2 separate regions of the Homo sapiens genome follow, and region 1 is linked to region 2. A link means that fine-mapping ties the variant in region 2 to the expression of a gene that starts in the linked region. Tissue or cell type: monocytes. Region 2 holds a variant in brackets; the other region holds the start of a gene. All regions are shown on one strand. Distances are between the middles of the regions.

Region 1 (15,409 bases), 100 kb before region 2:
TGCCCGCCATACTTGATTAGACACACAGCACACCCACCATTCCTCATCTTACTCTTTCAGAAGAAATCCTAATCCATTGAGATTCCAGGTTAGGCTCAGAGAAGGCCAACCACAACTCCCATCTGCAAATGGATCCTCTATCAGAAGGAAAGCATAAGTGAATGGCGCCATGTGTTCATGCCTATGCCAAATGTCTGCAGAGCTGACAGTCTTCCTGTCATAGTCTAGGTGTGGGGGTCCCAAGACACACAGGACAATTATCTTCCAACCTGGAACCTGCTGCAGGGTAGGGCGTATTGTGCTAAGGGGTCCATTAGGGAGTTAGAGCAGCAGAAGAGAGCAAGTCATCAAGAGAAAGTGAGTAAGCCTGGGCTTGCCCTGAGGCAGAGTCCAGGCCCTCCTGGTTCTAGCCACAGGTCTGCTCCAAGGCCTTACTATACTGTCTTCTCTATCCCAGGATTTCAGAAGGCTTCTCTCTTGCTTACACAAGCCCCTTATACCTAAGGGATTGGGTGTCTGTTTCTTGTTCCTCAAAAGGCTTGACTGGCTCAGGCTCAGCACCTTCTGTATGTATGTAGGGAGGGGACAGTGAAAACATAGAGCTGGGAGGATGTATCTGTGATCAGAAAGGGACCAGCTGACTGCTCCTCAGAGCTGGGGTGGTGGGAGAACAGGGCCCAGGCAGGTTCCAAACCAGACATGGTTGGAAGTGGGGAACCCAGCATCTCTACCCAGGTGTGTCTCCAGTTGCAGTTGCATACCTTTTTAGAGGCCAGATAAATTCCAGGGAGGAAGTCTGTCCATTCCTTTCAAATCATTCTGCTCCTATCATCTACGGTTCATACCTCACAACACTCAGGGAAAGCCAGGTTTCTTCATTACATGAATACCAGCTGTGATTTCTCTGGAATGTGCGATCTGGCTTAGACTGAGCCCATTCTTGAATCTCAGCCTGGAGGCAGAGCCTCAAAGAATCACAGATAGGGTTTGGGCAGAGCCTCAAAGAATCACAGATGGGGTTTGGGCAGAGCCTCAAAGAATCACAGGTAATTACAGATGACTTACCTACCAAGAGCCTGCAAAGTCTTGCTCTGGTGGGAGAAGGGGATAACTAACTCTGCTAGCCTGGAGAGCTGGGCACCTCCAAGCAGCAGCTCCCAGACTACCACATCAACACTGACATCTCTGGCAGGGGTACTCTGGAGCCCTACCCCATTTCTCCCAAGCCTGGGCCCCTTAACTCAAAAGGCTCTGTACAAAAAGTCCTCTAATTAGAGTCAGATTGGGAGGAGGCAGCATCCGAGAGGGACTGTGCCCCACAATGTGGGAAAGGCCAACCTCCAACCCATCTCATAACTATGCCCACAGCTTGCTTAAGACAGAGTAGGTGAAAGTATGTGTACCTGCTGAGTGCCCCTACAAAGTGTCCAGTGCTGCTAAAAGCCCTCCCAGAAACCCTCAGAATCCAACTGGAATAAGTCTGGAGGTGAACAATGTCAAACCCACTTTTATGAAAAACAAAGTGACATCTTGAGCAGAAAACCAATACTGAGTTTTATCTGTGCTGCATCCCCAGAGTTTAGAACAATGTCTGTCCCATACCAGGAACACAACAAAAAATACTTCACCACAGACTTGTTCAAATTAGGAAACTACAACAATAGAAGATTTTACATTTCTTCTATACAATGAGTTTTTATGGAGTATATTAAAAATGAATACTATATATCAACATGAAGAGATCTAAGCATACTGTTAAGTGAGAAAAGTGGGCCCCAATAATATGCACTCTATAATTCCATTTTTGTAAGGAAAAATTAATGTATATGTGTATATAGAGAGATGCAAGAAAAGAGTCATACATCTGGCTATATCTTGGTGAAATAATTTCTTTTTATTTTTATGCTTGTTTCTCTAATCTTTCTACAAGAAATTCTATAGCAATTTTTAAAATTATTTTATCATATGCTTAAAATGTAAAGAAAACAAAGCAGGCCCTTCTCAAACAGACTCCAAACGGGCCCTGCCAGCCCTAGTGTTTGGACCCCCACAGGAAAGTCCTGCAAAACCTGCCAACATCCCAGCAACAGTGATTCACCCATCAGGCGACTGGCACTGTTTCTAAACACAGGGCAATTCCAAGACATACAACCAGAGGTCCCACCAAACCTGAACTTTGGAAAAGACATTTACAATCTGGCCAAATGGCCATGAAAAGATGTTTCCAGCTGCAAACCAGCAGCGTCCTTAGCTTCTCTCCTTACCTCATCAGGCAGAATCTCTGCCAAGCTCCCAGCTGCAACCCAAATGCAACAGCCTGAGTTTTAACAATGTATTTAACAGCCTAGAGACAGAACATGAGCTTGCTGAGAACAAACTGGTCTTGCTTGGCACTGAACAAGAACCTGCCTGCCTTCTGTGAAGGGGGAAAACCTAACTGGACACGGCTCCCCGCTGCCTCCAACTCTAGGATAACAGGGCTGAAAGGACCTGTGTGTTCAGCCTAAGAGGATCCAGAGGCTCCAGGAGACCCTGCCACCAAAGCACATGGATGTCCATTCAGGCCTATAAGCTGCTGCCACGGCACCCTAGGCAAGTATGGGGGGTACCCTACTCTCCTTAGCCTCAGTCATCACCCTGATCTGAGCCACCCCTAACTTCCCCTACAGGCATCCTGGCCCCCACTACACTGGCCTCTCCACATGTCATCTGGCCTTCCTCCCACCTCTGCTCTACAAAGTAGCCAGCATGGTTTATCAAAGCCCTCCTTTGGCTCTCTACTGCCGTCAAGATAAAGTTCAAACTCTTTAGCCCAAAGGGTCCTTTTGAGTGTGTGACCAGGCCCTACTGCCCTCTCTAGCCTCATCTCACCATGCCAGGTTTCGTATCTTCAACAACTACTTTATGTGAAAAAATATTCTCCTTCACGAAGAACCTAATAAAGCCAAGATGTTTATCTGTATCTATCCACATACTTTCTCAGTCTGGTACATGAATAGTGGTTGACTTCCACTTCCCCACCTGGGTACCATCACCACCACAAAGTCTTGCTTCAGTAACTAGACAATGAAGTAGCAGAGAAGGCTGTTAAAACTGACATGCAAAAGCCAAGTTGGGTTTTCAGTCATAGTCTTGGCAGAGACTTGGCAGTCTGGATGAGACTAACCCACAAAAGGGAACTACACTTGAGGATAAAATCCATATACCACTATATTGGATGCATCTTACGTCCCACCTTGCAACCTCTTGGTCTCACCCATCTCCCAGGTCCCAGGGTATTTACTTTGCCTCAGCCCAGTGGAGGAGACTATCCAGGCCCACGCCAGAATCTCTGGCTCCTCTCACTATCTCCAGACTCTGTTGAAGTACCAGACTGGCCTCCCCAGTGGCTACCAAAGGGCCCTCATAGGGTAACCAAGTACATCTCTGTGCAGAGTAGCCAGCTTGCTAAAACACCACCTCCCATCCTCCTTTATACCTCACTTTTTTCTTTTGTTTTTTTGAGACAGTCTCGCTCTGTCGCCCAGGCTGGAGTGCAGTGGCACAATATTGGCTCAATGCAACCTCCACTTCCCAGGTTCAAGGGATTCTCCTGCCTCAGCCTCCTGAGTAGCTTGGACTACAGGTGTGTGCCACCATGCCCAGCTAATTTTTGTATTTTTAGTAGAGATGGGGTTTCACCATATTGGCCAGCTGGTCTTAAACTCCTGACCTCAGGCAATCCATCCATCTCGACCTCCCAAAGTGCTGGGATTATAGGCATGAGCCATCGCACAGGCCTGCACCTCACTTTTGTTTTCCCTCACCCTGGCTGCCCTGCAATTACACCTTCCAATAAAGCATTAAGTACTTAAGCTCTGTCTCAGGCTGTTTCCTGGGAACATAGTCTGAGATAAGCACTATTTGTTTCCAAAAATCTTTCATTTCTACTATCTAATTCTCACCCAAACCTTCTAAGCTAGATAACTACCTCCATTTCAGATATAAGATAGATACAAATGACAAACAGCTGAGGCTGAGAGAAGGTTTCCTACATATCTGACATCTGACAGCAAATCAATGACAGAACCAAGAGTCAAACCCAAAACACACTCTGCTAGATATTGCAGCTATCCAGTCCTACTCAATAATCTGTTACCTTAAAGTGCAATGGACTCCCAAACAGGGAAGCCACACTTTGCCCAGGAAGAACATGCCTGCCCAGGTTAAGGACTTTATCATGGGTTACACCAAAGGTTCATAAAGCAGGTCCATGACACGCCTGGCTGGATCTCACCAGAGGGAGGAACGCAACATGGACCCAGAAAACAGCAACATGGTCCCTTAAGTTCAGATGGGCAGTCACTCCTACCTTAGACATGACAGCACTCACAAATAACCAGCCAGTCCAGCTCAGGGCAAGGCAGTACAGTCAAATGGACAGGCACACCTGCCCTAGGGTCAGACATACTAAGAGTTAAACCCCAATTCTATACCACTTCCCGGCTTTGTGACCTTGGACAAGTTATAGGATTCCTCAGTTTCCCCATGTATATAATAGAGACAATACTAGGACCTATATCTCATAGGGCTGTTGGAGGACTGAATGTGATGACAGATGTTGGCAGGTAGCCCTGCACTAGGCATAATTTATGTCAATCATTAGTACCAAGGGCACCAGAGAAACATCAGTGGACCTGAGGCAGCCAGCTGCCCAGCCCAAGTCAGCTGATTCCTGGGTGAGAAAGAAGGTCCAGACTAGGGAACAGTGAAGATGCAAACAAGGCAGAAATTGGGCGATCTCCATGTTCCAGGAGCACCACAAGAAATGAAACATTTAATTCAGGAGAGACTGGAATCAGGTATAATGTAGTACATTGATCATCAGGGGATAACCCTGGAACTGGTCAATCACTGGCTCTAAAGCTCATCAAGCAATGTTCTCTAGCAAAAGGCGGGGGATTGGACCAATACTCTAGGAACTCATGTACTTATATGCCTCTGACCTGCTCATTCCAGGCTCCTACAAGTACCCAGGCCTGAGGATCTCCACTACACCCTGGCCCTCAGAGTGCCAGGTACAAAACAGGCCACACTCTAAGCAAGCACTTCCTGAAAGGTCCAGAGCAGATGCTGGCCTGTTACCAGGCTCAGATAGATTCCATCTGAGCTGGAGAGCACTCTACCCAAACACTTAATCCTCTGCCCTGCAATGACACCAGCTGAACAAGAACTCTCTTCTAGGGCTCCAGTAAATCATCCAGACTTTTCATTCTCCTCTGCTCTGAGGAAAAAAAAAAAAAAAAAAAACTGTCTTTCTATCTCTCATTCCATGTCCGTAACACAAAGCCCACAGACCACAGGACCTTCCAGCCCTCTTTGCTCTAGGACAGGCTGATGTCTTACCCTAAGGAACTTCAAATGTCCAAATTGCTAGATGTGAGCAACTTTCCCGAAGTTTAACTCTCACTCCAGCACTCTGCTGGGCTTGCATGTACTTGCATCACAGCTTTTCCTGCCAACTTCCATCTGCATAATAGTAAACTCTTGACAGACCCCAGGAGCCAGGGACACACCTCCTAGCCCTCTGCACACTATCAGCCAGCGTGGCCACACATCAGCCAAGGCCTTGCTTCCAGTCTCAGACCCTCCCAAGGATGTGGGAGGGCAGAGTGAAAAAGGGAGGCCTTCTTAGGAAATGAGGAGACCCTAGATTCCCTCAACCGACTCATTCCTCAGAGCTGCACCCACGTAGTCTCTTCCTTTGATGAGCACTCACAGCCGGGCTCCTCCCCTGGCACATGGCCAGCTGCCAATATGAAGCAGCAATCTCAGAGTACGAGCTACCCACAGGCAAGAATAGTGCCTCGGCCACCTCCTCTCTCTCGTCCCTCATTCTAGCCCCAGGCACGCTCCAGTCAGAAGCCAAACAGGCAGAAGGCACTCAAGGGATGAACTGAGATCAGCTGGGGCCAGTCTAAACCGGTGACTAAGTAAGCACTGTCTAGAGTACCCCAATGCAGAGCTTTCGACAGGATACAAGGGCCTATCACATGCCACAGACAATGCCTCAGCTAAGCTGTCACCAAGTCTGCCTGCTGAGCTCTCAGAGAACTAGGGTGATCCAGTATGACAGCATCTTTGGGATGAGGCCCCCAGCCAACTCACTCCATCCTTGCTACGTGGCTTCATTGGCTGGGCCACACAGTGGACACTCGGCTGTGTAAGAACAAGGAGGCCCTAAAAGAAAAGAATTCAAAGACCAAACATTCTGTGAGTGGGGAGAAGCAACCAGAGAGACTGGGCGCTGAGGCCCAGAACCACAGTGAGAGGCTGCACCTTGGACACCTCAGGGGCAGTTTAAGTACAAGCCAAAGGAAATCCTAGTTCATTTAACAGAGACTAAATTATGGAACCTAATGTCAGATGAGACACAGGCTGAGAACAAGCAGCAGACCCCAAAAACATCCTATAAATTCTTAGGTGGACAATGGATCTCCACAAAGTCTGGGACATTTAAGAATGCCCCAAGCTACAACGTAACGGACTCCAGCCCTTGCTCCTAGGACAGGATTTCCTACAAGAGGGCTGGGGCTGTGAGGCCCCAGGTAGTCTATTATCAAGAAGCACAAATCTCGGGTGTCACTCTACAGCAAAAGACAACAGTCACAGTCTTGGGAGGGATCCCAATGCTCTCCTGCACCATCTCTCTTTTTTATTTTTTTTTTAAGATGGAGTCTCGCTCTGTCTCCCAGGCTGGAGTGCAGTGGCACGATCTTGGCTCACTGCAACCTCTGCCTCCCAGGTTCAAGCGATTCTCCTGCCTTAGCCTCCCGAGTAGCTGGGACTACAGGCGCGCGCCACCATGCCCGGATAGTTTTTTGTATTCTCCTGCACCATCTTAAAGTCAAATAGAATACAAAGGCCAGGGACCCACCTGGGCTGTCCAGCAATACCTGAGGCAGGAAGTGCCCTGATCCAGGCTCCTGCTGCGAAGGTCAACTGGGCATCTTACACATGCAGGGCACAGTACCAGGCACGTTATCTCACTCCAGGGTCTTGTAGACAGCGTCCGTGGACAGCTATCCCCTACAGTGTTCCTTCCCCATCACCTTGCTTCCACTACAAGGCCATAAGGAATGGCATTGGCCAAGGTCTCTGCTCCCACTCACATAGGCTGTTCCTCTGTCCACGATGCCCTTTTGCCAGCCTTCCTCTGACCACTCCAGCTCATGGGTCACCTCCTCCGGGAAGTCCTCTGGCCGGAGGCAGTCAGTGCTCTACCAAGTACCCACTGCCCGCATTCCCTTCCAGCACAGCGCTCACCACACTGCTCTGGGCCAGGACCTTCCCGCTCTTCCAATCCGCCTGTCCCACTGGGTTAGCAACTGCTTGCGGTTTCTGGCACACAGAAGGGTCCCGTTTGTTGAATTAGTTAACGAATTATCACGGGTCTCCGCAGCTGCCAAGGAAAAACAACGCTGGTTCCACAAGGATGTCTGGGGGAGAAAAGACTTTCTGATCCAATGGCCCATCTAATGGGCTCCAAGCTGGACCCTGCCCGGACAAGACCTAGGACTCCCAGCCCTTGGGAGGGTGCAGAACGGGCTTAGCCAATATGAAGAGGCCCCTCAGGGCCAGGCGGACGCCGCGCCCCCGCTCCCAACAGCCGGCAGCCCGGGGTCAGGCCGCCACTTCCCGGGAGCCTGACAGGGAAGAGCGGCCAAGTTCCCAGCCCCGCCCGACAGCCGAGGGAACTGCACGAAGGGCGCCGCTGACCTCACCACCCTGAGCTCGGGAAGGCTTGCGGGCGGCGGCACAAGAACCCAGACGGGTGCAGAAACAGGGCGGAGGGTGCAGGGTGGCGGCCCGGACTGCGCTGCTGGCGGCTAGCGGCGCGACCCCCGGCCCCGGATCCGGCCCCGGCCCCTAACTCTCAGCCCCGCGCGGGCAGAACGCACCGCCTGGCGACCCCAGCCCGCGCCCCAGCGCTAAGGTTGATCTGGCGGCTGAGCGGGCGGGGCGCTCACCTGGACACTCGCAGCTCCCGGCGTTTCCAGAACCTCCCGCGGCGTCGCCCGGTCAGCTCGGCGCCTCCTCCCTTGGCGACTCCGCCTCGGGCCGCTGCCGGGGCTCCGCCCACTTGAGCCGCCGCCACGTCCCCACCTCACGCTCCACACGCCTGCCTGCGTCCTGGTCCCCAGCTCCGGTGGCTCCGCCGGGGTTCGCCGTCCTCTGCGACCCCTGGGAACGCCCAGGCTACCCGGCCTCGCGGGAGCCGGAGCCGGAGCCGGAGCCGGAGCTGGCCGCCCGCGCCCTTCATGCCGCCCGCAGCCCACCGCACGTACTCCGCGCCCGCCTGGCTTTGGCGCCCCCACCTGCGGGCCTTGGCCCGCCCTCCTGCCCAGCCCCTGGGCGTCTGGAGAGGTCGCCACGACCCGATCCCCTCGCCGGGGCTGTAGGGAGAGCGTCCCTGGAGGCTGACGGATTTCCCTGCCTGCGCTCATGCCCATTGCCTGGGGGGCCCTGCCGGGTACACGGGCCCCTTCTTCCCAGCACCACCACAAGGAGGCTGTTACGGGAGGCTGGGGTCACCCCGGCTAGGAACTGGGTATCAGGAGAGGAGGCAGAACAGTGGAGAAGACCCTGAGGAAGACTAGGGACCTGGGGCCCACCCCCTGGAGACCGAGATTGGGAGGCCCATTCCCAGGGCCGAGCTCTCAGTGGGTTTCAGAGAGTCCCGGGCTCTGGTCCAGGCAGTCCTGGTGGCATGTGCAGGGGTGATGGATTGATGAGAAGGGGGCCCATCAAAGGCTGGGTGGGGGCGGAGGCGGGGGGGCGGTAACAACCTGGGGCACACTGGGTTGCCCAAACCCTTCTTTATGCCATGGGCCAAAAAGAGTGGACACCTGGTTCAGCCAATCCAGTCTGGAAGGGAATAAGGACAGAGATGCAGCAAACCTCAGCCTGAGCGGGAGGAGGCCCTGGCGGCCAGGCAGGTTCCCACGCCTGCTCTGTGAACCTTCCTCTCATGAATGAGGGGAAGCACGGTCTGAGAATCTCATCAGGGAGCAAGCCCAGAGCGGGAGATGCCCAGCCTCCGCCCAGGCCCAGTGTGGATATTCCCTACGGCACACGGGCCAGGCAGGCGGCCCAGACCTGGGGAAAGCAGGAGCACGCACACGGAAATACACATAAAACATGGGTGAGCCATTGTTCCTGCCTGCGTCAGCCACCGGCTCGAGCCCGGCTAAAACTACACAAACCCTCCTGCATCTGCTACATCCACAGAAGCTTCCTTCCATCTCCTCCCCCTTCTCAGGAGTTTGCCCCATGGAACATCCCTTTTCTCTCCTGAAGGCTCAACTACCCGCTCTCAACTGGATCTTTCCCATTGGCCTGTAAATGTGTTCAAGCCTCTACTATGGGAACAAAACCCTCATTCGACCCCACTGAGTGTCTCTGTTCTCAACCGCAGCGGAATTTCTTGAAAGAGCTGTCTCCCCATCCTCACATCTCTCCCACTCTTCAGGCCCTAAAGGAGCTGTCTCTCCCACTCTTCAGGCCCTGCAGTCAGCCTTCTAGCTCCCTAACAGCACCAAACCAGGTCTCAATAAACTGTAGCCTCCAATCTCCAATTTCAACGGCTGTTCTTCAGACCTCATCTGCCAGGGCCCTGAGCAGTGTCTGACACCCAGCGATGACCACAGCCCCTCTGGAACACTGATTTCCCTTGGTTTCCCCTCATCCTTTCTGGCCACCTCTGCTCAAGCTTCTTCAGCATCCTCTCCCTATTAGTAAAGGTTGGGGGTTCCTCAAAACTCAGGTCTAGGCTTTCCACTTCACGCTTCTCTTTACACGCAGGTGACACAAATTTCTCTCTTTACCCTTATCCTTACTGCTGAACCCCAGATTCATGTAACTCACTGTTCAGTGTACATCCCCACTTGAGTGTCCACAGGCACCTCAATGGCAACATGTCCAACACAGAGTTATTGTTCTCCCCCTACATCTTCCCCCTCCACACATCCTGTCTTCACTGCTGTACTGAAGGAGATACTTCCCATCAGTTACCTAACCAGAAGCCTGGGAGTCATACTTGGCAGCTCCCTCTCCCTCATCCCCAGACCCTATTTACCTATATCCCAAGTCTGTTCAATTTTACCCCTAAATCTCCCTCTAATCCACCCACTTCTCTCCATCTTTTTCACATGAGTGATGGCAACACTTTCCTGACTGGCTGCTCCTCCATTTTTGTTCCCTCTCATCTCTCCTTCACTACAACCATGATGATCTCAAAATGCAGATCTGAGCCCATTACTTGCAGCTGGGAAATTGCCCTGATCTTGAGAAACATCAAAAAGTGGTTTATAAGGTTCCACATGGTTTGGCCTCTGCTCACTTCTGTAACCACATCGAACTTCCTCCAGTCTCTCTAACTGGCCATTCCCCCTCCCCACCCCAGACCTTTATACATGCTGTTCCTTCTGTCTAGAAAAAATTTTTCCCTCCCTGATTAAAACCTTCAGAATCCTTCAGATTCCCTCAGAGGCAGAGAGATTTTCCTTACTTCCCTGAGTAGGTCAAAACCTCCCATAACAGACCAGGCACGGTGGCTCATGCCTGTAATCCCAGCACTTTGGAAGGCTGAGGCGGACGGATCACCTGAGGTCAGGAGTTCGAGACCAGCATGGCCGACATGGTGAAACCCCGTCTCTACAACAATACAAAAATTAGCTGGGCATGGCCAGGCACGGTGGCTCACGCCTGTAATCCCAGCATTTTGGGAGGCCGAGGCGGGTGGATCACGAGTTCAGGAGATCAAGACCATCCTGGCTAACATGATGAAACCCCGTCTCTACTAAAAATACAAAAAATTAGCCGGGTGTGATGGCGCATGCCTGTAGTCCCAGCTATTCAGGAGGCTGAGGCAGGAGAATCGCATGAACCCGGGAGGCAGAGCTTGCAGTGAGCCACGCATGATGGCGGTGTCTGTAATCCCAGCTACTAGGGAGGCTGAGGTGGGAGAATCACTTGAACCCAGGAGGCAGAGGTTGCCGTAAGCCAAGATCGTGCCATTGCACTCCAGCCTGGGTGACAAGAGCAAGACTGTCTCAAAAAAAAAAAAAAAAAAACCACACACACAAAACCTCCCATAACAGCTTCTCATGTCCCCGTGTGCTTCGTAACACTTGCCACCGTTGATAGAATTGAATGATCGCTTGGGTAACGTCTTCCCCGACTGGCCTGGGAGGTCTGGGAGTACATAAACCATGCATGCATTTGTCCATTGCCATTTTCCCACCACCGAACTGGGCTCAATATTTGCTAACTCCTTGAATGGACGGATATCTCCTCAATACCTTGCTCCACACTGTAAGATTTAGTCTCCAAAGGCATGAGTAAGACCTCCGCAGGGTCTTGGAGTCCTGGCAGCTCAGGACCACAGCATTGGTCAGATATCCTCCTAAAAAATCTGCAGCCTTGAGAAGGGGCAGGACTTCTGAGGATCATGTCTCCTTGGTCTTCCTGCCTTGCAGGAAGTGGCCATTCATTTGTTTTTATATTCCTTTTCCTCTACCTGCCTCCACCCAGAAGATACCATTTCTGACCTCTGCCTTTGTAGCCTCACTTTCACCACTCAGCCCTTAACATAAGGCCCTCAGACTCCATCTGGGCTCCTGATCTATTCATTTCCTGGGGTTGCCACAACAAATTACCACGAACTAGGTGCCTTAAGTCAACAGAATTTTATTCTCTCACAGTTCTGGAGGCCAGAAGTCCAAAATCAAAATGTTACCGGGGTGTGCTCCCTCTGAAGGCTCTAGGGGCGAACCCCTCCTTGCCTCTTCCAGCTCCTGGTGGCTTAGGAGTTCCTTGGCTTGTGGCTGTATCACACGAATCTCTGCCCCATCTTCACCTGCACTTCTCCTCGGTGTCTGCATCTTCTGCCCTTCTGTTTCTTATAAAAATAACTGTCATTGGCTGTAGCGTCTACCCAGGTAATCCAGGGCAGATTGGGAGGTCTACCCAGGTAATCCAGGGAGGTTTGGCACTGAAGCCTCCCTGAATGCTGATGACTCTTGCAGGCCCTGGAACCACTGCAACAGCTCCCTTAATAACCTGTAACTTAATAATATCTGTAAGGTCCATTTTTCCAAATAAGGTCACATTCACAGGATCCAGGTAGTAGGACATGAATGCAATTTGGTGGGGTTGGGGGGCACCATTTAATCCACTACATTTGACATTCCTCCATGCCCTCAAAGGCTTCTGGACCCATGTAAATCTATCACTCAGTTTTGAATCTCCAGCCTGGGTCCACTCCAGACCCACATCGTCACAGCCTTTTCTTTATGACCACTTGATAAGTGAACTCATTGTCTCATGTAGGGTCCCCCAGGTTCCCTCACTTTTTTCTCTCTCCTGACAAATACCAAATGCCTTGACCACTCTATGACCCAGACAGCCGAAGGTTTTTTCCTGTAGGCTTGAGCCCAAGCTGGGGCCTTAAACATTCCCAGGCACTGATAAAGGTGTTTAGATGGTCGCCCGAAACACTGAAAGAAACTAGCCCCGACCCTGAGCCAAATTCCTTAAAATCTCATATAAATTCCATACCCAGACCCCCCTTGCAGCAGGCATACCTAGATAGAACATCCCTGTCTCGCTGTCTGCCTACAGGATGTACTGCAGCCCCCTCAGAGACCGAGAAATTTCCCTAATAAATGCTTTGGACTGATCACCCTGGCATTTAGTGCTACTTTCTTTGGAATCCCAACCATTTCAGGATGGTTTGGGGTAGTCCCGTATGGGGACCCCCCTGCCACTGCTTTTGGGGCATCTCCAGCTGCAGGTTCAGCCAGGATGAAACATCTCCCCCATACCACAGCCCACACCACCCAAACTGCTTCTGCCCCAGCATTTCCTACATCTCAGCAAATATCACCATCTCCCAGTCACTTCCCTTTTCTTTCCCACTGCATGCCCACCCTGGAGATCTTACCTGGTGGATCTCTCTCAGTTCACTTACTTCTTCCCAACCCTGCTGTCGCAGACCAAATTCAGGACACCACCATCTCTCACTTGGACAATCCATCTTAGCCCACTTTTCTACTCCGCTCCCTCTATCCTTACTCCATTACACAGGGCAGAGTGACATTGTAACCATGTGATTCCCATCATGTTATTTCCGTATAGAACCTCTCAAAGGTATTCCATGGACCCAAGGGTAGACACAAATCTTGCCAATGCTGCCAATCCCTTTTATCCAGCCCTGATGGTCTCTCTTCTTATGCACAGCCTCAAACTTGATGCTGCAGCCACTCCAGGCACTTTTCAGTTCCCTGGCCTTTGAATGTGTTATTCCTCCTGCCTAGAACATTCTCTTCCCAAAAGGTGGTTTCTTTCAAAAGGCTTTCTGGGTCTAGCCTGAGCCAGATCCTGCCATAGGCCCCAAAGCTCCTCATGGATGAGTTTCACACATGCTACCTGACCTCATTCAATGTCTACTTCATTTACCATTTGGCCCTCCTGGGGACTGCCTCTAACCTGTTCATCACTGTGTCTCCAGCTCTAGCATAGGGTCTGGCGCCCAGAGCCTAGAGAGGAATTGGTGAACAAAAATACATGAATGAATGAGTGGACATTCCCACTATTGTGGCCTCTAGCAGACCTCATTGAGTACACCCAGTGTGTGTCACTTAATGAATCCACAACCATCTTTAACAGCCACACATCACAGCATGTTATAGAGATTCACATCCCTTCTCCCCAAATCCATTGTATGAACAAGGCCATACCTCCCTTCTGGAACAGCTCTATGGTGTTCATTTATGTGTTCACTCAACAAACATTTGCTGATCACCAGTTGAGGTCAAGGCGGGGGATTCAGGGACCACACATATCAAAGGGGCTCTGTCTAGTATAAAAACTAGTAGATAAGCAGAGGCCCGCCCAGCAACTTTGTCTAGGGAGGGAAAAGCCCAAGCCTTTCCAGCTGGGAAAGGCTACTAGTAGGAGGTACTGCCTACCTAGACCCAGTCTTAGAGACCCTTCCTAGGCTCAAGATCAGGCATGGCCTATGACCTTTCACCCCAGCATGGCCAGGGCATTGCCAAATGAGGCTCTACCTCCATGCTGTCCCTAGGCAATATCCCTGGCCAATGGCTCCTTGAAGCAGTCTGGACTTGTCTGCCTGCCATCCCCACCCCGAAGGAAGAACCTGGTGTTTCCCCAGAAGGGATAGTAAAAACATCTGTGCTGGGCGGACAGGAAATTGGATGAATAGGAGGGTGGATGTGGCATAGCCCTTAACTCTAAACAGGGGCCTACTCAGCCTGCCCTGCCCCAGCCTCCTCCACTCCTACTCACCTGTGATCCCTGTTTTGGGGAAGGGGAGTGGGGCAAGCTCCACTGCTTGGCACTGAAGTCTCCCTGAATGCTGATGACTCTTGCAGGCCCTGGAACCACTGCAGCAGCTGGAGGTGTGGTCAGGGTTTACGACTATCTGGCCTTCCATGGAATTTCCCAGAGCAAGGCCCTCAGGTTCAACCAATGCCACACAGAGGGCATTGTATATGTGGATACACATCTGTATTCTTCGGTACATTCCGCATGCAGCTGTCCACTGGAGCTCAACCCACCCTAGGTTTCTCCCCTTAGAGACTGAGGAAAGACCGAGTGTGTCTCAGTTGGCTGGCGCTTTGACTCAAGGCCAAACACAGACAGCAAGACTTGTGGCTTGAGTGGGGCTACCTAGTAGTAGCCCTACTGCTTCTGAAATAGGGCCTATCCAGTAGTCTGGTCTTATAGCCTGGTGGTTGACCCTGGAAAAGGGAAAGATAATCTGGCAGAATCCCCAGAAGCCTGTGGGGACAGGCTGGGCAGGACCAAGTGTGTCCCTAGAGAGTGCCCCCCTAATCCCTGAACCCATCTGGTGGGTGCAAAAACCAAAGCAGGCTACAACTCTCCTACCATTTGCCTCCCCCATGGACCCCTGCAACCCAAGACAAGCAGAGTCAGCAATCAGGCTGAGTTGTCATTACAGGCATGCCAAGACCTTCAGGAACTGCAATTACACAGCAAGTCCAGGGCAGGCCCCCCATGGTGTAAAGAGTGAGTTTACACTACAACTTTCCTCCTCACTTCACCTCCATCCTGGGCGAGAGGCTCTGGACTAGTGCAAATGTCCAGAGGGCAGGAGTTAGCTAGGCATGGTGCTTGAAATCTGATATTTTGATGTATATACTGTAAAGCACACTTTTAGAATTATTATTACAGTCCAGCAGCCACTCGTCCTTCCTTCCCCAGTCCTGACCCTATATTGGGGCTGGGTGGGGATTAGGGATAGGTGATAAGGTGAGGGTTAAGGATAGCTATTGGGCATCTGATGTAGCTACTATCTAAAAGGCTGAAAGTTGAGTGTTTT
Region 2 (15,409 bases):
TTCTCTGGCTCTAGTTGTCATTTTGACCTAAGAGACCAGTACTTTCAAAATGTTATAATTAGCCAGGTATGGTGATTCACACCTGTAATCCCAGCACTTTGGGAGGCCAAGGTGGGAGGATCACTTTAGCCCAGCAGTTCAAAACCAGCCTGGGCAACATGGCAAAACCCTGTCTGTACTAAAAATAAAAAATTAGCTGGGTGCAGTGGTGAGCGCCTGTAGTCCCAGCTACTTAGGAGGCAGAGGTGGGAGGGTCCCTTGAGCCTGGGAGTTCAAGATTACAGTGCGCTATATGATCATGCCACTGCACTCCAGCCCAGATAGAATGAGATGCTGTCTCAAAAAAAAAGTTATAATCAATCTGATTAAGGTATGATTCTATCAGAGAGAAAGAGAGAGAGAGAATAACAATATAAAGCCTCTGATGGGCTGTACAGAGATTAGTAGGGATGGGATCTTTGCCTCGGGACCATATGTCACAGCGAGGAACGAACAGCTCTGATCCATTAGCCCTCCAGAGTCAGCCTCCAGAGTTTCCAGCAGAGAAGGTCCATCCCACAGGGAGCCTGCTCACTGTGCCCTAAGGAGAGCTTTTTCTTCTATTCCCCAGGAGCTGGTCCATGAATGCTCCTGGCTGTGGGCATACTGTACCAGGGACAGGACTTGCCCCAGACAGAGGCCAGCCTGGGACCAGCACTGACAAGCTGAGTGCTCCCCCTGAACATTTACCAGTGGTCTTACCATTTTCCTATAAAAGAAAATAGCTTTCTTCTGAACATCCCATCCTTGCAGGTGGGTCTTCCCAAAGGGATGCTCATCAGTCTAGTGGTTGGGGTATGGAGGGATGCTTAGAGCTGACATGGACCCTGCCGCCTGCTCAGTATGAGACAAGCTCTCCAGCAACACCTCACTGCTGTTTAGTCTGAATTCAATCTACAGAGAGATTATAGTGTGCTACCTCATTTGGCACTCCATTGACTTTTGAAATGATCAGCTAGATTTGAGATTATGTGCACCAAAAAAAAATCAAAGCAATTCAAAACTAGAGATACCAGTGGCCCTGAGTACAGTGGGCTAGAAATGGGAGGTAAACCTACATAGAGGCACTGCTGGTGGTTTGGGGGACTTTTTATGTCCCAAGTTTCCTTTAAAAGGCTTGGCAGTAAGTGGCCACAGGTGTGAATGGAGTATGTGTATAGGCGGTGGGGATGGGGTAGGGAAGCAGGCCATAGATGCAATGTGAGGAAAGCTATGCAATTTCTAGCTGATTAAACATTAAGAATCTGAGGCCAGTGGTCTGTAGAAAAAAAGGTAGGATATTTCTAAGCATAATCTGGTTGGAGAAAGATACTGGCCCCATCCATGAGGTATATCGTGGCTGTGTAGTAAGATCTCTAATTCTGCACTAATATAGTAGCCACCAGCCACATGCAGCTATTTAAGTTAAAATTAATTAAAAGTAAATAAAATTGAATTTTCATTTCTTCAATCACACTAGCTCAATAGCTACATGTGGTTAGTGGGTGCTGTCTTAGTACAGATACAGAACATTTCAGAAGTTTCTATCGGACAGCACAGTTCTAATTACTGAGAGTCAGTGACCTAACATTATTGTAGTTCCTATAGGGACCCACTAAAGGCATATTCTGAAAAATGCAAACTAGGCTCATTTTTCAACTCATGTGCTATTAAGCTGGAGAGGGGACCTGCTGGTTGGTCATTTGTTTTGCTCTGAGCTAATTCCTAGTGTGGGTTTGGGGCCAATTAACTACACAGGACTCTGTGTCTGCTACTTATAATTTGTTGTCTAGGCTAAGTAAGTACAGATGCTCTTTGACTTATAATGGGGTTACATCCCAATAAGCCCATTGTAAATTGAGAATATTCTAGGTCAATACACCTAACCTACTGAGGTAGGAGGCCAGACACGACTCCAGAGGCAGGGCTTGGACACTGGACCAAATTGAGGACCAGCTAAAACACAGCCAGGGCAGAAGACGCTTTCCATAAGACACGCCCACCCGTGTGCCATGTCAGTTTACTGTTGCCATGACAACACTCAGGCTTTATTGCCCCTTTCCATGGCAATGACCCAATGACCCAAAAATTACTACCCTTTCCCTAGAAATTTCTGCATAAACTGACCTTTCATCTACATGTAATTAAAAGTAGTTATAAATATGAGTGCAAAACTGTCCTGAGCTGCTACTCTCTGCCTGTGGGGCAGCCCTGCTCTGCAGGAGCAGTCACGGAGCTGTAACATTGCCTCTTCAATAAAGCTGTTTTCTTCCACCTCCAGTTTGCCCTTGAATTCTTTCCTGGGCAAAGCCAAGAACCCTCATGGGCCAAACCCCACTCTGGAGCTTGCCTGCCCTGCATCCCTACCAAATATCATAGCTCAGCCTGACCTACCTTAAACATGCTCAGAACACTTACATTAGCCTACAATTGGGCAAAATTTTCTAACACAAAACCTATTTTATAATTAAGTGTTGAATATTTCATGTAATTTATTAAATACTGTACTGAAAGTGAACAACAGAATGGCTGTATGTATGAGCACTCAAAGTAAGGTTTCTACTCAATGCATATCATTTTTCTCCTATAGTAGAAAAATCATAAGTCGAACCATCATAAGTTAGGGACCATCTGTACTGACAATAGGTAAGGAAAATGAGAGCTGACAGGAGAATGGCTAAAAGATTTTGAGAAATAAAAATTTAGAAAGAATAGAAGCCCTATTATTTGCAACTGTGTTTGAGCATCAGCTATAAATGGGAATAGACTATGTAATTTAAAACAATAAGCTTTTTTAGACATTAACAAAAAGACAACATTGGGGCTCATCTCCCAAAAGCTGGTTTGGGCACTCGCTGATCTGGGAATCTGTTGAAAGCCATGGGGGCCCCACACAGGCGGGTGTCAGTGCCCTCACTTTCTCTTTTGACTAAAGGAAACGATCAAGAACACAGGTGCCCTGGCCATCCTTTTCCCAATAAACTGTGAACATCACCAGCTGGGACACCAGCAATTCTCCTTAGGATGGACCCACTGCAAAGACAGTCTCTTCTCTAGGGGAACTTATAGTCTAGTAGCTATGTTTCTTTTATGAGCCACACTACCTATAAGTTTTGGATGAACTTCTCCAGAGCCCTGGCTCAAACATGCCCATAGTTAATGTCACCCCTTATGGTCTGGTCCTGGTCTCAAGCACAACTGATGATCGGTCTTATAATTTGATCAGAAGTTTGAAACTTGAAGGTGGTTTTATTTATTCCTATGCTCCAATAGAAATCTTATGTGGACTCCCTTTAAAAAGACAAACTAGAATTTTACAAAATTAAAACTATTTGGGGGAAACTCAGATTTAATAGTATCCAGCCCTGCTGTTGTGAAAAATTATTAAATATTAAAAATAAATTATAGGTTCATTCCTGAATCTCCCCGATGGCTGATATCCCAGAGAAGATTTAGAGAGGCTGAAGATATCATCCAAAAAGCTGCAAAAATGAACAACATAGCTGTACCAGCAGTGATATTTGATTCTGTGGAGGTAAGCATTTGCAGATGTTTCCTCTTGAGATCAGCTATGCATTCTTGATTTTATGGAATTTAACTTAATTCAATATTTGTTAAGTGCCCACTATGTACCAGGCATTGCACTAGGCCTTAGGAACACAATCATGATTAAATTCTAAGATAAAATCCACCTTAAAGGGCTGTTTATAAGAATTAAATGCAATAATATATGTAAACTGCTTAGCAAATAGCAAGCGTTCATTAAATATTAGTTTGCTTTATTTTGCAAGTTTATCATCAACTTTCTATTGGCATTGCTCCAAACCACTGACACAGCTATGTACTGATGATTTTTAAATGTCCAGATTAAGTGGAAAAATATGTTTCAGGGCTAGTCCACCCTGGGTTCTCCACTGTACCCTGAATCTTACCACAGACTGCTGAGGAAGCTATGCATGTCTTTAGTCTCACTCTGTGTCATGTCTAGAACCTTAAGGCCTGAAAGCACAGGCTTGAGGATTCACCCTTGAAAGCTGGTGGCCACAAGGAAAAGCTGATATTCTGTGGAAGCAGCCACACCTCCTGACAGTTCGTGAGGATATGCAGTGTGCCATGCCCTGTGCTGGCTCCTAGAGGAAATAAGAAAAGACACAGCCCAAATTCTAAAGGAACATAGAATGTAACTAAGATTGGCAAGAGGATTAGATAAAAAGATAAAGAATGGCATAAGGGAGGAAATGGTAAGTATCCAAGTAGAGACACTGTGTGCCAGCAATACAGAGAAAGATAGCAGGGTGGCCCATGGCTGGAGGCAGGTCCAAGCCAGGGAGGACAGCAGGACTCACTTAAATGAGTGGAGAGGATGGGGCAGGGCATTCCTGTCTAGGAGATAGGTAGGAGTCTGCTCAGGACACCTAAAAAAGACTGTGGTGGCTTCAGTAACATTATACATGCCCTGCACCAAAGCATGTAGTACAGAAAGCAGAACTCTGTAGAGGACGGTGGGCATGCCACTGCTCACCCCCACGGCTTCCCCAGTCCCTGGCCTTCAGGACCTTTTCCAGAAGCAGATACTCTGGCTATGGCTAGAGGCTTAGACTGGCCATGAACTCAAGCTCTCAGAGGGCTGCCAGGACAAAACATCCCTTAATCCTTTGCCCTTCAAATCAAGAAGTCCATTTCAAGTCTCAGTCAATTTAAATGGATAAAACAACAACAACAACAACAACAACAACATTGGGAGTGTCTAACACTTCTGCCCTTCAGGGCTGTGCTGGGGTGTTTATCGGTATTTATCAGCTAGGTGGCCTGATTCCTATCTGTGAAACTTAGAGTCTAGTTGTAGGGATCTACCTATGTGGATGACAGCAATCATAAAATAGATATGAGATATATAGTTATGGACAAATAAGAATATAGTTCAGTGTTAAAACACATGGTTCTGGCAGTGCCTTTATATATATATATATACACACACACACACACACACACACACACACGCATATATAAATGTGTATATATATGTGTGTATGTGTATATATATATATATATATATATATATACACACACACACTTTAAAAAAATTTTGAGTCTCACTGTTTTGCTCAGGCTAGAGTGCAGTGGTACAATTACAGCTCAATGTAGCCTCGACCTCGACCTTCTGGGCTCAAGCAATCCTCCCACCTCAACCTCCCAAGCTGGGACTACAGGCACTTGCCACCAAACCCAGCTAACATTTTGTATTTTTTTTTGTAGAGACAGGGTTTCACTATGTTGCCCAGGCTGGTCTCAAACTCCTGGGCTCAAGCAATCCTCCTACCTCAGCCTCCCATAATGCTAGGATTACAGATGTGAGCCATCATTCTCAGCCTGACAGTGCCTTCTTTCTTCCTGCCATGATGCACATCTAGCCTGAACTGGACAAACCCATTAAGGGAAAGGGGGCTTGCGCTTTCCTGAGGCCTGGTCATCTCCCCTGCTCACCTCCCGTAGGATCCTCTTTAGGAGGATCTGCAGAGCCCTGTGCCAGCAAATGCACCCTATTTAGAATGATATTGAAGAGCCTACCAAATGCCAGGCACTGTGTTCTGCTCATTGCTCATGCTTTTTTTTTTTTTCAAAAAAAGAAACTAAGGCACAGCGAAGTTAAGTAACTTGCCCAGGATCACACAGATGTTAAACTGGGATTTGTGACCTAGTTCTCCCAGGCACCAAAGTACATGCTCTTAACAACTGTGATTTTTCACTTCATGTTACAGGCAGTAGCATTAACTTGGATAGGAAAAGATATAGAGTAGAGTATTGTCTTAGAAAGCAATCTCAAGCATCCTTGGCTTCAGAAGAAGCACCTTCAACCTGCTTCTGGTACCTGATCCAAAGACATTTTGGTGGCTCCACCCAGGCCAGGGACAACCACTGGATACAAGCATATTCTTGTTCTGAGGTTTCCAATCCTGGCTGCTCATCACAATCACCCAAGTGCTTTAAGAATACAGATTCTCAGGCCTCTGTTTAAAAGAGTCGAAGTAGGCAAGCCCAGGGAGGAACCTGGCAACCTGCATTTAAGAAGGGCCCCGTGGAACCACCAAGTATTAGCACAGGACTGGTCCACAGGTCCTGTCTGTGTGCACCACCCTGGAACCCTCCAAGAAGATGTCTGGTTCCCACTAGTTTATGCAGTGGCTTTGCTTTGTTATAATACCAGGGTTATTCTGCTGGGGGCATGTTCTGGGGCTCTACAATCCAAATAGTGCAAGAGAGAAAAGGCAATGTGGCTGTGAGCTGTGTAAGTGTCTGATCATTCCTAGAAAAAAGGACACTCACATTTGGAGAGGACCTGCTGTGAAGGCAGGCCTGGCACTCCCACTTCTTCATAATAAAAACTCCTCCATCAGTCTCTTACTGCGCATGCACTGTAGGGCCACAAAGTCACAAAGTCCTGGTACTTCATCCCTGAGAGATTCCCCACCTCAGAGCCTAATAACTTTTATGTTAGTTTCAATTCTAATCAGCTTGGTTACCTTGATTCATAACTCATAGCAAGTTAATATCAGCAAATTAAAAGCAAAAGAATAGGCCGGGCGCAGTGGCTCACACCTGTAATCCCAGCACTTTGGGAAGCTGAGGTGGATGGATCACCTGAAGTCAGGAGTTTGAGACCAGCCTGGCCAATATGGCGAAACCCCATCTCTACTAAAAATACAAAAATTAGCCAGGTGTGGTGGCAGGTGCCTGTAATCCCAGCTACTCAGGAGGCTGAGGCAGGGGAATTGCTTGAACCTGGGAGGCGGAGGTTGCAGTGAGCTGAGATCGCGCCACTGTACTCCAGCCTGGGCAACAAGAGTGAAACTCCCTCTCAAAAAACAAACAAGAAAATAAATATAAATAAAAGTAAAAGAGTATAAACCCATTGATAGCAGTAAGGATTTGTCACTGACCGCTGATGGCTAGCCTCTTTTCCTCAATGATACAGTAATAATAATAATAGTTTAAATTTACTGGACATTTACCATGGTTCAAGCACTGTGCTAAGCTATATATATATGATCTCATTTAATCTCTCAACTCCCAATTAATATACCCATTTTATATAGCAGTAAGCTGAAGTTCAGAGAGGATCGTTACTTGCCCAAGGCCCGCCAGTAAACTGAAGTCTGTTCTGATGCTAAATGACTACAACAAGAGAAGTGTAAAAAGCAAGGCTGGGTAATCCCAGCACTTTGGGAGGCCAAAGTGGGCAGACTGCTTGAGGCCAGGAGTTTGAGACCAACCTGGCCAACATGGTGAAACCCAGTCTCTACAAAAAATGCAAAAATTAGCCAGATGCGGTGGTGCTCGCCTGTAATCCCAGCTACTCAGGAGGCTGAGAGGCAGGAGAATCGCTTGAACCTGGGAGGTGGAGGTTGCAGTGAGCTGAGATCACACCACTGCACTCCAGCCTGGGCCACAGAGCTAGACTCCATCTAAAAAAAACAAACAAATAAACAGAGAAGTGTAAAAAGCAGACGTGGCCTCAAGGAAGGGACTACATGGCCCTACCCTTCAATAGGCAGTCCTGAGGATCACAGATCAGTGTGGTAAATGACATCCATTCTCTGACTGTCAGTCAGAGAAAGGCTATGTTAGCCAACAGGCTTTGTCTAACGAGACAGGGAAGGGGGTGTTATATATTTAAAAGGCTTCTGTGTAAAATGGACTACAAACATTTTAAAGTGTCAGAGTAAGTGTCATATATGTAGATGCCCTATTGCCTCCAATCACCAGACTTCTAAGCATAGTCAAGGTGAAGTGAGAGTTGCATGCATAAGTTTTCCCCATGCATCATAGCCAAAGATACTTCCTTACTACCTCTTAATCTCATGGTTATTTGCATTATTTTGGTTACAGGAGCTAAATCCCCTGAAGCAGCAGAAAGCTTTCATTCTGGACCTGTTCAGGACTCGGAATATTGCCATAATGACCATTATGTCTTTGCTGCTATGGTAAGTAATAAGTGACCTGGAAATGCAGATATCCAGCACATAAGTATGCAACTGATTTTCTTAACTCAGAGGAACATTATGACAACGACTGGGTTTTCCTGAGGAAAAATTAAGATTATAAAATTCTAAATTATTTTGAAATGCCTCTATTCAGTTCATGGGACTAGATATTGAAAAATGTCACTGGGCGCAATGGCTTACGCCTGTAATTCCAGCACTTTGGGAGGCCAAGGTGGGCAGATCACCTGAGGTCAGGAGTTCGAGACGAATCTAGCCAACATGGTGAAACCCCGTCTCTACTAAAAATACAAAAATTACCTGGGCATGGTGGCACATACCTGTAATCCCAGCTACTTGGGAGGCTGAGGCAGGAGAATCACTTGAACCCAGGAGGTGGAGGTTCCAGTGAGCCTTGATCGCACTACTGTACTCCAGCCTGGGCAGCAGAGCAAGACTCCATCTAAAAAAAAAAAAGTCACAGGGTACAGTATTTAAGTCTGCAGTACTGGGACCCAAAGGGAAAGCATTCCCTTCCCCCTCCTAAAGTTATGGGATTGAGATCATTGATGTCCCTGGGTAATGGTTCCCTCCCCACCAAAAATTATGAGATTAAGACTAATGATGTCCGTGTTGCCTGAGGCAGAGATGCTAATTCAGCTCCTGCTTCCTGAAGCTGACCTGGCAATTGAACACTGAGGCTAGAATAACCTAGATCCCCATTGCCTGGATTGGAGCCTTGATCAGCTTTTTACACGTGCCAATAGCAAACTAACAAGTGGCTTTCAGGCGCAGAAATACTGAATTGGCTTTATAGATTAGATTTAATAATTTATCTGCCAAGAAAAAAGGAAAAAAGAAAATTCCTACTCTATGATGGCA[G/GCACA]CACACACACACACACACACACACACACACACACACACGATGATCGTCAGAACTGGTAGATTTAGGCTGCAGCTAATCTAAGTTTATTTTTAAGGGCCATCCTACTTGGCAATTAGAAGAGATCAATGACAGAGCTTATGCGTCTGAATTAAGCAAGTGTGTCCTAGGTACATGGGCTTCTTAGTTCTTACATTTCAGCCTATATCCCTGATGCAAATGTTCTTGGGTAGTGGTGCTACTAAGCTAATAAAAAATTAGTCACTAGTTCTATCTAAACTACTCCTATTACTAAATGGGAAAATCACTAAGATCCCTTGAGCATACTTATTTGTTGTGTTTATGAATTAGTCCTTGTATTATCTAATTTGGGTCTAGTATGTGTAAAAAGATCCACTAGTGTTCCTGAAGTCATTTTTCAGATATCCTCTGCTTCTCAGTCATGTTAATAATAAGCAAATTTCTACACAGGGGTGTCTGCATAGTGCAGTTGTAACAAAAACTCAGGTTCAGTCACTCACAGCTTGCAGCGTCCAATTAACAAGAGCAAAGTCTGATGTAAGGAAAGTGACTTTTTATTCCAAAGCTAGCTTAGGGAGAAAGGTATCGGCTTCCTGCCTGAAGGGTACCACCGCTCCTCTTTTTGAAGCGGAAAGCAGGCACTTCTAAAAGGCAGGGGAGGACGCGAGCAGGTGAGGGATCAGAGGGCTAGCTTGCTGCCTTATCTACTGGGCAGTTGAGGTGGTGCCTTCATGGGCAGAAACAGGTTGTATAGGTGGCCAAAAACTCTAGCAGGCATACTTTGAGTTGGAAATTGACTGATATCGCTTGAGGAAATCTGGGCGGTGAGAGTTCCACTCTGGAGCTTCTAAGCACATAGTTAGATGAATTTGCCCTGCAGGGAGTGTCCAGTGAAGAGGAGGTTAAAAGGCTATAATTGCACTTCTAAAGAGCTAAGTAGAAAGTGCAGAAAAGGAGGAAAGAGAAAAGAAGAGAGAGAGAAAATAAACTATCTCTTAGAAAAATGGGGGTACTCAGTTACATAGTTATTTTTCCACAGAGAAGCTTCTTTTTTTTATTTATGTTTTTATTTTTTTGAGATAGAGTTTCGCTCTGTCACCCAGCCTGGAGTGCAATGGTGCGATCTCAGCTCACTGCAACCTTCGCCTCCTGGGTTCAAGCAATTCTCCTGTCTCAGCCTCCCAAGTAGCTGGGATTATAGGCACATGCCACCACCATGCCTGGCTAATTTTTGTCTTTTAAGTAGAGACGGGGTTTCACCATGTTGGCCAGGCTGGTCTCAAACTCCTGACCTCAGGTGATTTGCCTGCCTCGGTCTCCCAAAGTGCTGGGATTTCAGGCATGAGCCACCACGCATGGCCCACAGAGAAGCTTCTACATGGAAGTTAACTATAATGACAGAATATACAGACTGCAGTCTGTGATACTTTGAAGGATTAGGGGACATTCACTCTTTTCCCTAAAGAGAATCAGAATTTATTCTAAGTGAATCCCACAGTATGACCCTTGTATCTCTTTTTTGTTAAAGAATGAAATCTGGATTTTATGTTCACTGATGTGACTAATATTTTTTCTTCATATAATAGCTCTAAGAGATTGAGGAGGTACAAACTATTCAGGAAATAGGAAAACTTGAAATCAACTAGCTGAGAAAAGTTATTGTTGAATATTGGTATATCTAGACTAGCACTGTCCAATAGAACTTTCTGCAGTGACGGAAATGTTTCATATCTATGTCGTTCAATATAGTAGCCACTAGCTACACGTGGCTATTGAGCACTTGAAGTGTGGCTAGTGTAACTAAGGAACTGAATTTGTAATCTTATTTAATTTTAATTTATTCAAATTTAAGTAGCCAATGAGGGTAGTGGCTACTTATAAGACAGCAAGATATAGAGAATTTCTTGACCATCATAAAATTTTAGAGCGATTCACACCATCCCTTTGTCATTTTTACCTTCTTCTTTCAGGATGCTGACCTCAGTGGGTTACTTTGCTCTGTCTCTGGATGCTCCTAATTTACATGGAGATGCCTACCTGAACTGTTTCCTCTCTGCCTTGATTGAAATTCCAGCTTACATTACAGCCTGGCTGCTATTGCGAACCCTGCCCAGGCGTTATATCATAGCTGCAGTACTGTTCTGGGGAGGAGGTGTGCTTCTCTTCATTCAACTGGTACCTGTGGGTAAGAAGTTAACCAAGATGAACAGCTTACCAGAAAAGACCCACATATTGACTAGGCTGCTTCTGAGTCACTGCTCCATGTTTATTCAGCCTTTACATCATAAGCCATTCATAAGTCAATTAGACAGGTGATTGCTCACTACGTATGTTGTTTCCTGTGTTCAAAACAACTACCCCAAACAGAAGAGACAGTCTCAGAGAAGCAGAAAGCACCAAAGAGGAAGAGTAACTCTCCCAGTCATCCCCTTCACAGAAAGACTCACCTAACATCTCCCTTTAACTCATAGTCATGATTCCTAATTTCTGGCTACTCTCAAACATTTTCCCTGGGTGTATATTCAAGTATTACAGTGAGTAGGACATGTCGGTTCCAGGATACATTCAGTGGTTTTCTGGTCTGAATCTTTAAGTAGTTAAATAGCACACAAAAGGATATATGCTTCCCTTTTCCCCTTGTGTCTGACGTTCTCATAATATTAAAATGTCACTAAATTATTGATAGTAATAGAAATACATATTTCTTAATAATAAGAAAGAGGATAGAAAGGATTGGTCCTCCTCTTTGAAGATAAAACTTAACTATATTAACATGCTAATAGCTTACCCATGAAACTGTTTTAACAAACAAAAGACAAGTGGACAAAGGTCACTGAATGCATTAATGACCTAGAATAACAGTAGAACAAAGTACAAAGCCACCCCTCACATGAGCTCCATCTTTGTCCATGCCCAAATATTAGGACATTTGAAGAGAAAATGCTATTTTGGGAATATATTTATGTTAATAAAAGTACTCCCACTGAAGCAAAAAGGACAATAAAAATAACTGATATAAGAAAGTATCACTTCTAAAAGCACCATTGTTTATACCGGGTCTCTTTTCCAGATTATTACTTCTTATCCATTGGTCTGGTCATGCTGGGAAAATTTGGGATCACCTCTGCTTTCTCCATGCTGTATGTCTTCACTGCTGAGCTCTACCCAACCCTGGTCAGGAACATGGCGGTGGGGGTCACATCCACGGCCTCCAGAGTGGGCAGCATCATTGCCCCCTACTTTGTTTACCTCGGTGAGCTGCATCTTGTGCATTTGTTCTTCCTTTAAATTAGTTTTCAATGTAAAAGTAAGATTTTCATTGTGAAAATGTCAAATAGCATAGAATGTACTGGAAAAAAGTACAAGTTCACCTCTCCTCTCCCAGGAGGAGCTCTAGAAAGCCAATCACAAACTGGTGAGTAGCGCTACAGACATTTTGTTTTGCACAACATCATGTACACAGGTATGTATATAATTTTTTAAACACACAAGCAACTCAGGCGTGGTGGCTCATGCATGTAATCCCAGCACTTTGGGAGGCCAAGGTAGGTGGATCACCTGAGGCCAGGAGTTCAAGACCAGCCTGGCCAGCATGGTGAAACCCTGTCTCTACTAAAAATAAAAAAATTAGCCAGGTGTGCTGGCAGGTGCCTGTAATCCCGGCTACTCTGGAGGCTGAGGTAGGAGAATTGCTTGAACCCAGGAGGCAGAGGCTGCAGTGAGTCAAGATTGCACCACTGCACTCCAACCTGGGCAACAAGAGCAAAACTCTGTCTCAAAAATAAATAAAAATAATAAAAAATAAAAAGAATAAACACACAAATAACATTATATATGTTAAAACTTTTTAAACTTAACATTGTATCAGAATATCCTTCCAAATAGTTACATATTGCTCCTTTACCTTCTTTTTAAATAGGTACCTCCTTTTAAAAATGTATATAAGTACATTTTAAAATAAGTATATGTAAGTATAATCTACAGATAGATTCACAGAAGTAAAATTCCTGGAGCAAAGAGTGCCGTTAAAAAATTATATATATATGTGTGTGTGTACATAATGTTGTGCAAAACAAAATGTCTGTAGGGCTACTCACCAAACAGTTCATGTTGGTTTTCTAGGGATCCTCCTGGGAGAGGGGAGGTGAACTTGTACTTTTTTCCAGTACATTCCATGCCATTTGAAGTTTTCACAATGAAAATCTTACTTTTATACTGAAACACATAATTTATTTAACCAGGCTCCAATGAATGGAGGACATGTAGGTCATTTCCAGGTTTTTGCTATTACAAATAACATTACAACGAACATTCTCCTATGCTCCTACACCCTTTGTGAATTTACTTACGTATATTTGGATTTACAGGTAGATTCATAGAAGTAAAATTCCTGGAGCAAAGAGAGCCATTAAAAAATTTCATAGATATTCCCAAATTGAACTCTACATATTGTGCCAATTATAATCTAATTATTAATAGGTAAGAGTGGTTTTCAATAATCTCACCAACAATAAAGATTACCTTTTTTTTTTTTTTTTTTTTTTTCTGAGACAGGGTCTCACTCTGGAGTGTAGTGGTGCGATCCTAGATTCCCAGCTCACTGCAGCCTCAATCCCCCAGGCTCAAGAGATCCTCCCACCTCAGACTCCCAACTAGCTGGAACTACAGGCATGCACACCGTCAAGCCCAGCTAATTTTTTTTTTTTTCTGGTAGAGACGGGATTTTGCCAGTTTGCCCAGGCTGGTTTCGAACTCCTGGGCTCAAGTGATCCACCCGCCTCAACCTCCCAAAGTGCTGGGATTACAGGTTTGAGCCACAGCACCTGGCCTACCTAATTTTTTAATCATTGGTTATCTGTTATGTGAAAAATGGATATCATTGTTACTTTCATTCCTATTTATTAATTATGAATGAGGTTGAGCATGTTTTTGTGTATTTTTTGGCCATTTTATTTATTTTTCAGTGAACTGACTGCTCATGTTCTTTGCCCCTTTTTTTTTTTTTGGAGATGGAGTCTCACTCTGTCACCCAGGCTGGAGTACAGTGGCGCAATCTCAGCTCACTGCAACCTCCGCCGCCTGGGTTCAATCAATTCTCCTGCCTCAACCTCCTGAGTTGCTGGGACTACAGGCGCATGCCACCATGTCCGGCTAATTTTTTTTTTTTTTGTATTTTTAGTAGAGATGGGGTTTCATCATATTGGTCAGGCTGGTCTCAAACCCCTGACCTCAGGTGATCCACCTGCCTTGGCCTCCCAAAGTGCTGGGATAACAGACATGAGCCACTGTGCCTGGCCTTCTTTGCCCATTCTTTAATGGTGTATATCGGGCAAAATTCAGCCCTGATAATTCACATAGGTTCTTTTCTATTTTCCCTAAGTGCCAGCTGGTCTGAGAAATAAAGGGACAGAGTACAAAAGAGAGAAATTTTAAAGCTAGGTGTCCGGGGGAGACATCACATATTGGCAGGTTCCATGATGCCCCCTGAGCCATAAAACCAGCAAGTTTTTATTAGTGATTTCAAAAGGGGAGGGAGTGTACGAATAGGGTGTAGGTCACAGAGATCACGTGCTTCACAAGGTAATAGAATATCACAAGGCAAATGGAGGCAGGGTGAGATCACAGGACCACAGGACCGGGGCAAAATTAAAATTGCTAATGAAGTTTTGGGCACGCATTGTCATTGATAACATCTTATCAGGAAACAGGGTTTGAGAGCAGACAACCGGTCTGACCAAAATTTATTAGGTGGGAATTTCCTCATCCTAACAAGCCTGGGAGTGCTACGGGAGACTGGGGCTTATTTCATCCCTACAGCTACAACCGTAAAAGACAGCTGCCCCCAAAGTGGCCATTTTAGAGGCCTACCCTCAGGGACGAATTGTCTTTCTCAGGGATGTTCCTTGCTGAGAAAAAGAATTCAGCGATATTTCTCCCATTTACTTTTGAAAGAAGAGAAATATGGCTCTGTTCTGCCCGACTCACCAGCGGTCAGAGTTTAAGGTTATCTCTCTTGTTCCCTGAACATTGCTGTTATCCTGTTCTTTTTTCAAGGTGCCCAGATTTCGTATTGTTCAAACACACATGCTCTACAAACAATTTGTGCAGTTAACGCAATCATCACAGGGTCCTGAGGCGACATACATCCTCCTCAGCTTATGAAGATGACGGGATTAAGAGATTAAAGACAGGCATAGGAAATCACAAGGGTGTTGATTGGGGAAGTGATAAGTGTCCATGAAATCTTCACAATTTATGTTCAGAGATTGCAGTAAAGACAGGCGTAAGAAATTATAAAAGTATTAATTTGGGGAACTAATAAATGTCCATGAAATCTTCACAATCCACATTCTTCTGCCATGGCTTCAGCCAGTCCCTCCTTTCGGGGTCCCTAACTTCCTGCAACAGGTGTATTCATCTTTTTCTTTTTGACTTGTGCAAACTCTTTGCAATGGAAGAAATTAGCCCCTTGTATATATGTTGTAAATATTTTTCCTAGTTTACCATTTGTA

Which allele goes with the higher level. Alleles are on the strand shown, and positions count from the first base shown. SD is a standard deviation of normalised expression in the study named.
For the expression in monocytes of the gene that starts at base 8,073 in region 1, G is the low allele of the variant in region 2 and GCACA is the other (large effect, 0.81 SD a copy in Kim-Hellmuth 2017).

The links. PIP is the estimated chance that this variant, and not a neighbour inherited with it, causes the effect. A credible set is the group of variants that fine-mapping cannot tell apart.
Region 1: P4HA2 starts here. The variant in region 2 is the best candidate, but not a certain one, in a credible set for the expression of P4HA2 in monocytes (Kim-Hellmuth 2017, PIP 0.64).

What each region holds. Positions count from the first base shown.
Region 1 is chr5:132,219,781-132,235,189 of GRCh38, forward strand. P4HA2 (prolyl 4-hydroxylase subunit alpha 2) reads right to left here and starts at 8,073. Exons shown (of 15, transcript NM_001017974.2): 1 at 8,010-8,073. RefSeq lists silencers at 7,790-8,049, 8,190-8,419.
Region 2 is chr5:132,323,851-132,339,259 of GRCh38, forward strand. It overlaps SLC22A4 (solute carrier family 22 member 4), which reads left to right. Exons shown (of 10, transcript NM_003059.3): 5 at 3,427-3,553; 6 at 7,906-8,000; 7 at 10,868-11,082; 8 at 11,968-12,150. It overlaps MIR3936HG (MIR3936 host gene), which reads right to left. Exons shown (of 8, transcript NR_110997.1): 6 at 10,935-11,076; 7 at 8,339-8,460. Among named protein-coding and RNA genes, the nearest start is that of MIR3936, 34 kb to the right of the region's middle. The variant G/GCACA (reference allele first, on the strand shown) is at 8,880.